Regions from separate parts of the Homo sapiens genome. Here region 1 is linked to region 2. The links come from fine-mapping of genetic effects on gene expression. A gene starts in region 2. The other region holds a variant in brackets. All regions are shown on one strand. Distances are from middle to middle. Region 1 has its middle 5.5 kb from the start of KCNJ5. Region 2 holds the start of KCNJ5-AS1 (KCNJ5 antisense RNA 1).

The links. PIP is the estimated chance that this variant, and not a neighbour inherited with it, causes the effect.
Region 1: its variant is fine-mapped to the expression of KCNJ5-AS1 in nasal epithelium (TOPMed, PIP 0.96).

What each region holds. Positions count from the first base shown.
Region 1 is chr11:128,883,144-128,888,519 of GRCh38, reverse strand. No RefSeq gene overlaps it. Among named protein-coding and RNA genes, the nearest start is that of KCNJ5, 5.5 kb to the left of the region's middle. The variant A/T (reference allele first, on the strand shown) is at 3,151.
Region 2 is chr11:128,904,147-128,909,522 of GRCh38, reverse strand. KCNJ5-AS1 (KCNJ5 antisense RNA 1) reads left to right here and starts at 3,292. Exons shown (of 4, transcript NR_045767.1): 1 at 3,292-3,374; 2 at 4,912-5,092. All of the region lies in intron 1 of KCNJ5 (potassium inwardly rectifying channel subfamily J member 5), which reads right to left. RefSeq lists a silencer at 4,358-4,427.

The DNA.
Region 1 (5,376 bases), 21 kb after region 2:
ATTTTAATTCCTAGGTGTTAATTGGGAGCTGGTGTGGAATTGACAGGAATGCTAACACAGCTCGGAGAAGAGGAGCTGGGACTGACTTCTGACGGCAAGGCTACGCAGAGAAGGAAGGTCTGAAGGACTTAGGGAAGGAAGACTAAGGTTTGAATGTGATGAGAGGGAGAGGAGTCAAGGAGCCGGGCTGGAAATCAAGGCTTGGGCAGGCAAGGCTCAGGGTGCTCAGGGACCACAAGAAAGGGAAGGGTTGCTGCTGGGGGATCTGGGCGGTAAAGTGGTGATGCCAGTGGCTGTAATTAACGCAGTGCCTACTATGTGCTGAGCTCTGCTCGATGCTTCACGTAAGTAATTGCTTGTAATTTTCTCGACAGCCTCGGGAGGGAGGTAGCTTTAGCACCTTTCTCCGGAGAGAAAACAGGCTCAGACAAGTCAAGTCCCCTCACACTGGCAGGAATTTCAGACCTGCTAGCAGAACCCAGTTTTGTTAGTTTCCAAGATCATATTTCTAATTGTTATGAGATGAACGGTGTCTCTCCCAAATTCAGATGTTGAAGCCCTGATTCCCAGTGCTTCCGAATGTGACTGTATTTGGACATGGGGCCTTTAAAGGGGTGATTAAATTAAACTAAGGGGCCGGGTGTGGTGGCTCATGCCCATAATCTCATACTTTGGGAGGCCGAGGTGGGTGGATCACCTGAGGTCAGGAGTTTCAGATCAGACTGGCCAACGTGGGGAAACTCTGTCTCTACTAAAAATACAAAATTAGCTGGGCATGTCTGTAGACCCAGCTACTCGGGAGTCTGAGGAAGGAGAATCCCTTGAACCTGGGAGGCGGAGGTTGCAGTGAGCCAAGATCGTGCCACTGCACTCCAGCCTGTGCAACAGAGTGAGTCCATCTCAAAAAAAAAAAAAAAAGAATTAATTAAACTAAGACCATTAGGGTGAGTCCTAATCCAATCTGACTGGTATCCTCATAAGAAGAGGAACTACTTTGAGGACACTAGGAGAAGGCAGCTGTCTCCCAGCCGAGCAGAGGCCTCAGGAGAAACCAACTTTGTTGACAACCTTGATCTTGGACTCCTAACTTCCAGGGCTGTGGGAAATCAATTTCTACTTGAGCCACCCCGTCAGTGATGTTTTGTTATGGCAGCCCTAACAAACGAAGACATTAACCACGCATCTCTGCCTCTCAGAAGAGCCTCATATCCCAGGCTGTGGCATCTGGATTTTCTTCTGCAGATTGAAAGCAAGTATTAAGAATTTCTGAGTTGGGGAGAATTATGAAAATCATTGTGAAGATTTCCCTGGGGGTTGTCTGTGTATGATTCATTCATTTATTCATTTCAGTGAAGACTTATGGAGCACGTGCTTTGTGACCTCTGCAATGACAGGGACCCTGTTTGTCTTGTTCACCTCTGGGTGCCCCTTAGCAGTGCTAAGCACAGCATCTGCTACATAGGAGATGATCAATAAATATTTGTCAAATGAAAGAAAGGATATGGGGTAGGTTCTGCACTTAGAGAAAAATGACAAGACAAATACAGAACTTGCCTTCAAGGAGCTGAGAGTGTGGTGAGGCTGGTAGTCAGTTTGTGGTTAGTTTAGGTGGAGCTGAGATTATTGTGCAGTGCCACCCAACAGAACTTTTGCAATGAAGAAAATGCCTGATATCTTGTCTGTATAATGTGGCATTGTGGCTACTGCCTAGGTGTAATGTGGCTACTGTGAATAGGAAAGGGAATTTTAAATTTTAATTAATTTGCATTTAAGTAGGCACTATGGCTGGCAGCTACTGTATTGCACAGTCTAGGATTGGAGGCAGGGAGAGCGTTCGTGGGCTGGGCCCTAGTGCTGGCCTGAGGTGATAAGGCTGCAACAAGGCAAAGGAAGAAAGAGCCTTGGGACGGGTAGTGGGTTGCACAGTCTGGCGGCAACAGTGCCACCCCCTGGGATCATGTATGAAATGCGGAATCTCAGGCTCCACCCTCCACCTGCTCAAAGAGAATTTGCCTTTTAACAAGCTCTCCAGGTGACTATGCACACTGGGGCTTGGAAGAGCATGATGTAGAAGATGTGGCTGAGAAAGGGTCAACAGGAGCCCAAAGGAGAAGAGGAATGAAACTGGATGGCTTGGAGCTGAGCTGGGCTAAGCTCCCCTGAATCTCCAGAGGCACTGAGATCCCCTCCTCTGTGGACACCTTGACCCCTCCGCTTCCCTCTGATAGAGCGCCGATCACATGTGTTGGGGGTTCTGTGACCTGTCTCTCTCCTCTACCTGCAATCTACAAGTTCCTTAAGGGTGTAAACCTTGTTTTTTAAAACCCAAGTAAATGTTTATTGAATGCGTGCATGCCTGATGTCAGGAATGAGAAAATTAGCAGGAGTAGGTGACTGGGACGGGAGAGCTGCTGAGTTTGATTCTAGACATGCTGCATGCATGTCTAACTGAAGGTTGGTGAGAACTCCACTAATTGCAACTCCACTAATTGCAACTCCACAAAAAGTGGCAACTCCACTAATTGCCTAAGTGGAGTTGTCTGAGAAGAGGCAGGAATGGATGTCTGGTGATGACGGGGGAGTTGAGGATGGGGTGGAGATTTTGGAATGTCATCCGCAGAGAGGAGAAGACTGAAACTCTGAGAAATAATTTAGGTATCTGGAGGAGGGTGGAGAGAGAAGGAGAAGAGGCAAGAGCTGGGAACTATGCTCAGATCTGGGACAGAGGGAGAAGGATACAGAACAGGAGATAGAGGAGTGATCAGGATGGCTGGAGGTCAGCAAGGCTGGGGTGGCAGAATGACCTGGAAAGGAAGAGTGGCAAGAAAATTGAGTGGCCAGTGTGCCGGCGTCCCTCGTTAATAGAATATTTCTTTCATAGTATTTATCCCATGAAACCTGTGTGCAACACAGCAGAGGTCCAAAGTAGGTAAGTACAGATCCAGAAAAGTCATGGAAAATAGGGCCAATGGGAAAAAAAACCCCTAATCATTGACCAGGCCATCAAGCTGTCATTAGTGACTTTGCAGGATGTGTTAAAGAGGCCTCCTATTCATCTCACAACTCAAAACAGACATGCTCTCTGGGAAAGTGGCCTGATATTCATGTTGATGCCTTGACTTCTCCCAGTGCATAAGCTTCCCACTTGTC[A/T]TTGGATGATCCCAAATTCACTGTTCCTTTAATGCCATTGAATTCTGACCATAGGGAGCACCAATGGTAGCTTCAGCTTCCCTGAAACAAGCTTCCCGTTCCTGAATTTCCTCTCACTCTTGAGTCCAGGCCCAGGTGCCTGAGAGAGGCATTTGCCACAGCTGGCCATACAGTTGACTTTATCGAGTCAACATCTGTTTCTAGAGGGCACAGCACTTAGCCCCAGGACTCAGCTTGGTGCCCAGCGCTGAGCTTCCAGTTATTGCACCGCTAGGGGCAAATGATGTTTTTCTTCCTATCCAGTGAAGTGGGCTCCTATTTGGCAAGGAAAGAAAATGAACAACTTTAATTCCTTCCTAACTTTTTTCATAACAACTCTCTTAATTCTGTTTTGTGGAAAACTCCATAGACATGCTGACCAGCAAGCACCTGCCCTGCCCCGGTGTGGTTTCCACAAGGGGGGCAACAGCACCATCTAGTGTTTGAAAGAGATTTCACACTAGGTAGAACACATGTATTTACTTACCTTGATCTTTAGTTTTTGTTTTATTAAGGTAATATATTGGCCGGGCACGGTGGCTCACTCCTGTAATCCCAGCACTTTGGGAGGTCGAGGCGGGCGGATCACGAGGTCAAGAGATCGAGACCATCCTGGCCAACCAACCCCGTCTCTACTAAAAATACACAAAATAGCTGGGCGTAGTGGCACATGCCTGTAGTCCCAGCTACTCGGGAGGCTGAGGCAGGAGAATCGCTTGAACCCGGGAGGTGGAGGTTGCAGTGAGCCGAGATCGTGCCACTGCACTCCAGCCTGGGTGACAGAGCGAGACTCCGTGTCAAAAAAAAAAAAGTGATATATGAAAGTAATATATTTGAAGCATCACATTTTTCTAAATAATTTGAAACAAAAGCAGTTGGGTTTCCTCTTTGACCATCTTCCAATCTGCAGAGGTCATCACTTTCATTTCTTTTGGCTATTTTTTCCCTTTGGTTTTTGTCTGTAAATGACACCCTTCTAGTAATACTTATAGATGCTTCCATCTTCAGAGACGACCTATGAACTTTCTACCACTGAAGATGGAAACGTGGCTCCCTTTCCTCCCCTGAACCCACCACGTGCTCACATACTTCCCATTTCTCGTCCAGCAAGGGAGCTGTGTCACAATTTTGGTTGGATGAATACTCAGTTTTAATATTTTTATGTCTATAAAGTTCTGTTTGTATGTAGCTGATCCATGCAGCAAACCAGATTGCTTTGTCTTTCCTGCACAACTCTTTTTCTTCTCTGGAGGGACTAATTAATTGTCTTGGTTTGGTTTGTGTAGTTGTGTTTGCTCTCATCGCCAATTTCTTTTTTCTTTTTTGGGGGGATGGAGTCTCGCTCTGTCACCCAGGCTGGAGTGCGATGGTGCGATCTTGGCTCACTGCAACCTCTGCCTCTTGGATTCAAGCAATTCTCCTGTCTCAGCTTCCTGAATAGCTGAGATTACAGGTGTGCGTTACGCGCCACCATGCCTGGTTAATTTTTGTATTTTGGATAGAGACAGGGTTTCCTCATGTTGGCCAGGCTGGTCTCAAACTCCTGACCTCAAGTGATTTGCCTTCTTCAGCTTCCCAAAGTGCTGAGATTACAGGCATGAGCCACCATGCCTGGCCTCATCACCAATTTCAATGCAAAAATTTCCACCTACCATTTCAATCTCCTCTCAAGATGTCCAGATGCACCAGAAGTCCTACTGATTCCATCTGGAGAAATCTCCCTGGTGCCTTCTGCTCCCTTTGGTCTGGCCTGGTTGCCCTCTCTGCCTAGCGCACAGCTGGCTTCCTGGCATCTCTGTTTGCTTTGCCTCACTCCCATATTGCATCCCCTGTTTCCTGAATCCCATGCGTGTTTCTTTCTTGGTTCACTCTCTTACTTTTTAGGAAGAACACGTCCTACCATTGCTTCCTAGGAAAGAGAGTGGGCAAGGTACAATTTTGAGATTCTGCATATCTGAGAATATCTCTATTCTATTCAATTGACAACTTGGGCAGGTGTAGAATTCTAAATGGGAAATTATTTTTCTTCGGTATGTTAGAGGGATTTCTTCTTCTTCCACATTTCAATTATATTGTTAGAAGCCCGAAGCAAGTTTCATTCCTGATCCTTTTGCGGGTCCTCTTTTTCCTTTCTGGAAACTAGCCAGATCTTCTCTTAGTGAGTAGTGGTGTGAAATTTCACAACGA
Region 2 (5,376 bases):
AGAGCCCTTGCCGCAGACATACTTAAGCGGAGCACCTCTTTTCTTGCTGTCTGTCATGAGGACCAGTGCAGCGCTCTACATGTAAGTTCCCCTAATAAGTGCTTTGGAACTTGGTGATTTCTTCTTTGGAATCTCAACTGACCCCATTTGGGGATGGTTTGGGCAGTCCCTTGCAGGAATTCCCCTGCCACCATTCTGAGGGTGACTCCAGCTGCAGGTTCCACCAGGCAGAACACCGGGAAGCTGTGTCCCCAGTAGAACAACCTGGAAAAAGGCCTGTCAACCACTGAGCTGACTGCCTAATGGCAAACCAAGGTAGATCCCAGCTGTCCTGGGGAGTCAGATGACCCTGGCAGGCCTTTTCCTGTGCTGCCTGGGTGATTATAGCAATTTCAAGATAACCTTTAAAACATCATATCAAAAGGTCATCTGAAGGGCTTTGTCCCAGATGTCCATTGGCCATTTCCCATTCTGCATAGGGCCACCTGCTTCCTGCTCCTTCATGTGGCAGTTAACAAGGATAAATGAGACAAGGAGGAAAATGCTTGGGGCTATCTTTGCAGAATCCCAAGCAGGAATTTGCTCTGCCTTAAGTGGGAGACTTCATCCTGAAAACTCAATCACAGATGCTCAGAGATGATGGAAAATGCTGCTGTCCCGAGGCCCCGTGTATTCTGGACACCCCAGCTGTTGGAACCAAGATAGGCTTCCAATGGGGGTGCCGCTGCGGACTCCCTGAGCCACTGAGGTTGGGCAGGGCAGGCACAGTGCCACAAGAATGAGTCATTGGCCGGGGCACATGGGAGCTCACATCCTCCTGTACTCAGCTCTTTGGGGAAACAGCTTGCTGCTGATTTTCTGCACTGTTTCCTTCTTTATTTTTAAACATACTTGCATACATTCTTGTAGGCGAAGGCTTTGTGCCGTACTAGAAACGGGAAAATGTTTTCTAGGAGACTTCAGCCCAGATAGGAAAACTTTTTGCGTCTGGCAGATAGGAAAGGGTGGTTTACTTTTGATTTGATATTGGGACGCATTCCTGTGCGCTGGAATCATCCGCAGAAGTCATCCCTTGCTCAACCCAGGGTAACATCTGGATTCTGACTCAGTGTCCAACAAACCAGCTTTGTGGTCCAAATACAAACAAACTTAACTTTCTTTGCCTCAGTTTACTCTGCTATAAATCCCAGATAATATCCTCTGCTCCTCCAGCCCTGGGAGCCAATTGTAGGGATTCATGGAAAGAATACATGATACAAACATAAGTATAAATAAAATAAACATACGTATTCATAATCTCTCCTCAAATTGAAATTTAATGCAATATCCCATTAACCCCATTTTAAAGATGAAGAAAGAGAGGTAGAGATTATCTAAGACAAATAGCTAAAGGCCCAGTGGGCAATTTGCAGGGCAAGCATTGAGCTGACCAGCATGCAGCCTCTACTGTTTAGATTTCTTTTAAGGGTAAGTAAAATCCCCATCCTTGAAACCCTGGCTTCCAGTGTTGTGTGCCTATCAAGTCAAAAGGATTTTCAGGGACAATGGAGATGAAATTCTTTAATCAGGTTTTCGAGATCCGTTCTATTAATTATGCACTCATTAAGCACACATTAATTGAGGAACTACTATAGCCAAACCCCTGTGCTAGGAGCTGGACATAAAGCAGTGAAGAAGATAAACGCAGAGCCAGCCCTCCCATAGTTGATATTCTAGCATTTCCTCTTTGAAGCTAGGGTTTTTGCAGAACTGTCTGTAGAGGACAGACAGGGAGGAATGCTGTGGCTGGCCTAGGTAAGCTGAGCATCCTAGCTACTCTCTGCAGGACGCAGGGAAAGGCACTGACTTGAGCAAATCCTATTAAGCCTCATCAAGCCTGATACTTCTCTTCTTCCATCCTCTCCTGTGTCTGTGAATGGGAAGCTGTGTTGAGACATGATGAAAGCTTTTGGAAAAGACAGAGCTTCAAGTCCAGCAAAGTGGTTTAATCCCTTTGATAGGAAAACACAAGTGGAGAAAGACTCAAAAGAGGCAAAATCAAAGGAAGTTGTATTTCAGATGATGCGTTAGTGAATGTGACATCCATTTAGATGGACCTCTGAATGAAGAATGTCAAACATCACGCACCCACAGGGAGGAAAACTTGGTGTCATGGCGTGGTCTAGAATGTCAGGAGTCAGGGCCCTAACAACTTGGTAAGAGCCTTGCTTGGGGGTCAGCAGGGCTTCCTGGAGAGACCACTGGCTTGGGAGTCTTTTCACAGACTCAGTCTCCCTATCTGTGATCACAAGCATCTTTATCAATTTCCTACTTTCTAAGATATGCTGGATCAAAATGTACCACTCTCTGAGCTTTGAAACACGGGATGAAGTTGGAGGAAGAGGAATGGAGGAGGGCGTGCTTATGTCTCATATGGAGATATTTGTATACTCTTCTGTGGGAATATATATGACTGTACTCATAGGAAAATGCTCCAAACTGGTTGGTGAACAGGCTGCCCCAGTCCCCTCAAGGCCCTTTAGGGTTAGCAGGAAGCATTCGAGGTGTTACACTTGAATGTAACACCAGAATACATGCTGGGGACAGAGAAGGCACTTGTAAGTAGGCAGAATTCCAACACACCCTCGTGATTCCTGCCCCCTGGTATACACCCCCTGAGGAACCCCAGGAAATCCTCACTCCCATGACTGGGGCATGTCATATGGCAGAGCTGAACTGAAGAAAGAAAGTTCATCTGGGGTGAGCTTGACCCAATCACAAGCCCTTTGAAGGGATTGGGCTTTTCCCGAAGTAAGAGATTCAAATTATTAGAGGAATTAGACAGAGGGGGCTTCTCCTTTGCTGGTTTTAAAGATGGAGGGGGCCACACGGCAAGGAATGTGGGTGACCTCTGGGAGCTGAGAGCAGCCCCCAGATGATAGCCAGCAAAAAAGTGAGGACCTCAGTCCTACAACCACAAAGACCTGAATTCTGCCAGAACCACAGGAGCTTGAAGGGGGCCCTGAGTTCCACATGAGAATGCTGGCCTCGCTGACACCCTGGTTTTGGCCTTGTGGGAACAGAGCAGAGGACACAGTCGCATCAAGCCTGGACTTCTGACCTACAGAACTGTGAGCTGATAAGTGGGTGCTGTTTCCAGCCACTATGTCTGTGGTCATCTGTTATGGCAGAAATAGAAAATCCAGTACAGAAAGGGAAGTCGGATCATAAACAGTTAGGAAGGCTGACTCTGGCATCAGATGACCTAGGTTCCTATTTTGCCTGGAGCTGAGGCACATTTGGAAAAGTTACTTCTCTAAGCTTCCGTTGCTTTATTTGCAAAATGGGGATAACAGTACTCACCAAAAAGAGCTGCTGCGAAGATGAAATGAAAGGTGTGTGTACAGTGCCTGGTTTACAGGAGCCCTCCTGAGAGGTAGCTCTTAGGATTTTCCACCAGGGGGCAGGGCTGGGAAAGGGGCTGGAGGGGTGGGGGTGAGGGGCAGGAGTGCTTCAAACGCCTTGAGGATAAGGAAGGAGAATCAGCAAGTCCCGAGTTCCTACGGTGTGTCAGCATCGTGCTCCCACTCCCGGGAGAGAGGCATTATCTTCAGTTTACAAAAGGGGAAAACAGGTGAGAGTTTAAAAACCTCGCCCGGAATCGCACGGCTAGTGCTGCAGGCTCCCCGGATTCCGCAGCAGCTGCTCTAGATGAGGGCATGCCTAGAGGCTCTGCTCCGCTGCAGCGTCTACGAGACCGGGAACCCGTGCCCCTTTCCTCCCCCCGCCCCGCCCCCCCAGAAGCCACGCCTGAGGAATTTTCTAAGACCTTTCCCTTTCGTCCCTCCCACGCCTAAGGTCCAGGTCCCAGGGCTTTCCCTTGCACCTTCATCCCTGGCCCTGCAGAGGCCTGCTTCTCGCTTCCGGGGTCGCCAGAGCGCCCCTCCCGCCACCCCGCCATCTCTTGGCCGGATCGTGCGAGAGAAGGGGAGGAGGTTGGGACGGGGGAGGGTGGCTGCGACAGGGGAGGGGAGCCTGGGAGAGGTGGGGAGGGAGGCTGGGACGGGGGAGCCCCAGCGCGGCAGGAACCGGGAGCCCTGAGCGCCACAACGTCTAGCGTGGCCTCGGAGGGTGACACAGGGGAGACCCCTCACCCCGCAGGGGACGAAGCCCCCAGTGCGGCTGGATAAGGCGGTGCTCGACGCCTGGGTGTGGCCCCCTGGCCAGCTGCAGCTCTGCGGCTGCGGAGGAGGCGGGGCTGGGGGATGCGGGGTGGGAGGGTGAGAGCCAGGAGGGGCCTGCGGAGGGGAGACAGAGGCCCTGTCCCCAGGGAACGGGCGTGGGGAGGCCGTTGGCAGTGCCGGGGACTCCCCGCCAGCGGGTCTCTCTTCCTGGAGGAAGGGCGGGCCAGCGGCCCCAGCCACCCAGAGACTGTGCCCAAGCCACACCGGTGGACAGGATCCTCCCAGGGGCCAGTCCTGGTTTCCCAGCTTTTCACAATTACCAACCTTAAAACAAAACAAAATTATCCTCTAGTGTACTCGGAGGTTTAATGGCACAGAGCCCGGTGGTAATAAATCTTTAAAAACCCGTCAGGTATTTCATTTAAAAACCGCACCATTTTGCAGCTATTTGTTCTATCAACTTAGGTCTGTGTCTATTTTTGAATTTCTGAACGTTTTACGGGTTTGCTTTTTGAGCCTGTTTGTTTCATAGCACATGATGGAGTAGGTGTGAAATCCCAGTGGAAGCTGACACAGGGCTTCACTCACTCAGTCAATTAGTCAGCGAACCCCCACTCAACACCCACTGGGTGTTTGAATTATGTTGAGCTCTGGGGATAGAAGGAGGTCGACTCACACTTCACTGGCATTCGTTCCTGTGCTTTCCCTTCCTGGGGATCTGGCTAAAATGCGGGTTCTGATTCTGTAGGTCTGGGGTTTCCAGAGTCCGCGGTTTTGCTAAGAAGCCGCAGTGATGTTGACGCGGCTGGTCCTCAGTGCACACCTGAGTAGCACGACCTCTCCGCCCTGGACGCACGCTGCCATCAGCTGGGAGCTGGACAACGTGCTGATGCCTAGTCCCAGAATCTGGCCCCAGGTGACTCCAACAGGTAATGAGATTGACGACCCTTGATGCGTTCTCTGTCCGCAAGGAGTTCCTGGTCTGGTGGGGAGTACACAGGCAAAAAAAATCAGTGCAGTAGAGAGTGAGAGAGAGGCCAGGGTGCAGTCCTGAATTTGGCTTGTCTGGGGTGGGCGAGGAAGAGTCAGGAAGGCCCTGGTGAGGAAGGCGTCCAGTGAGCAGGGTGAGGTGGCAGAGCCTTGTGGGCCTGAGAACAGGGGAGCAAACAGTAATAATAGCTCCAGCATGGAATCCCTGTTCTGTGCCATCTTT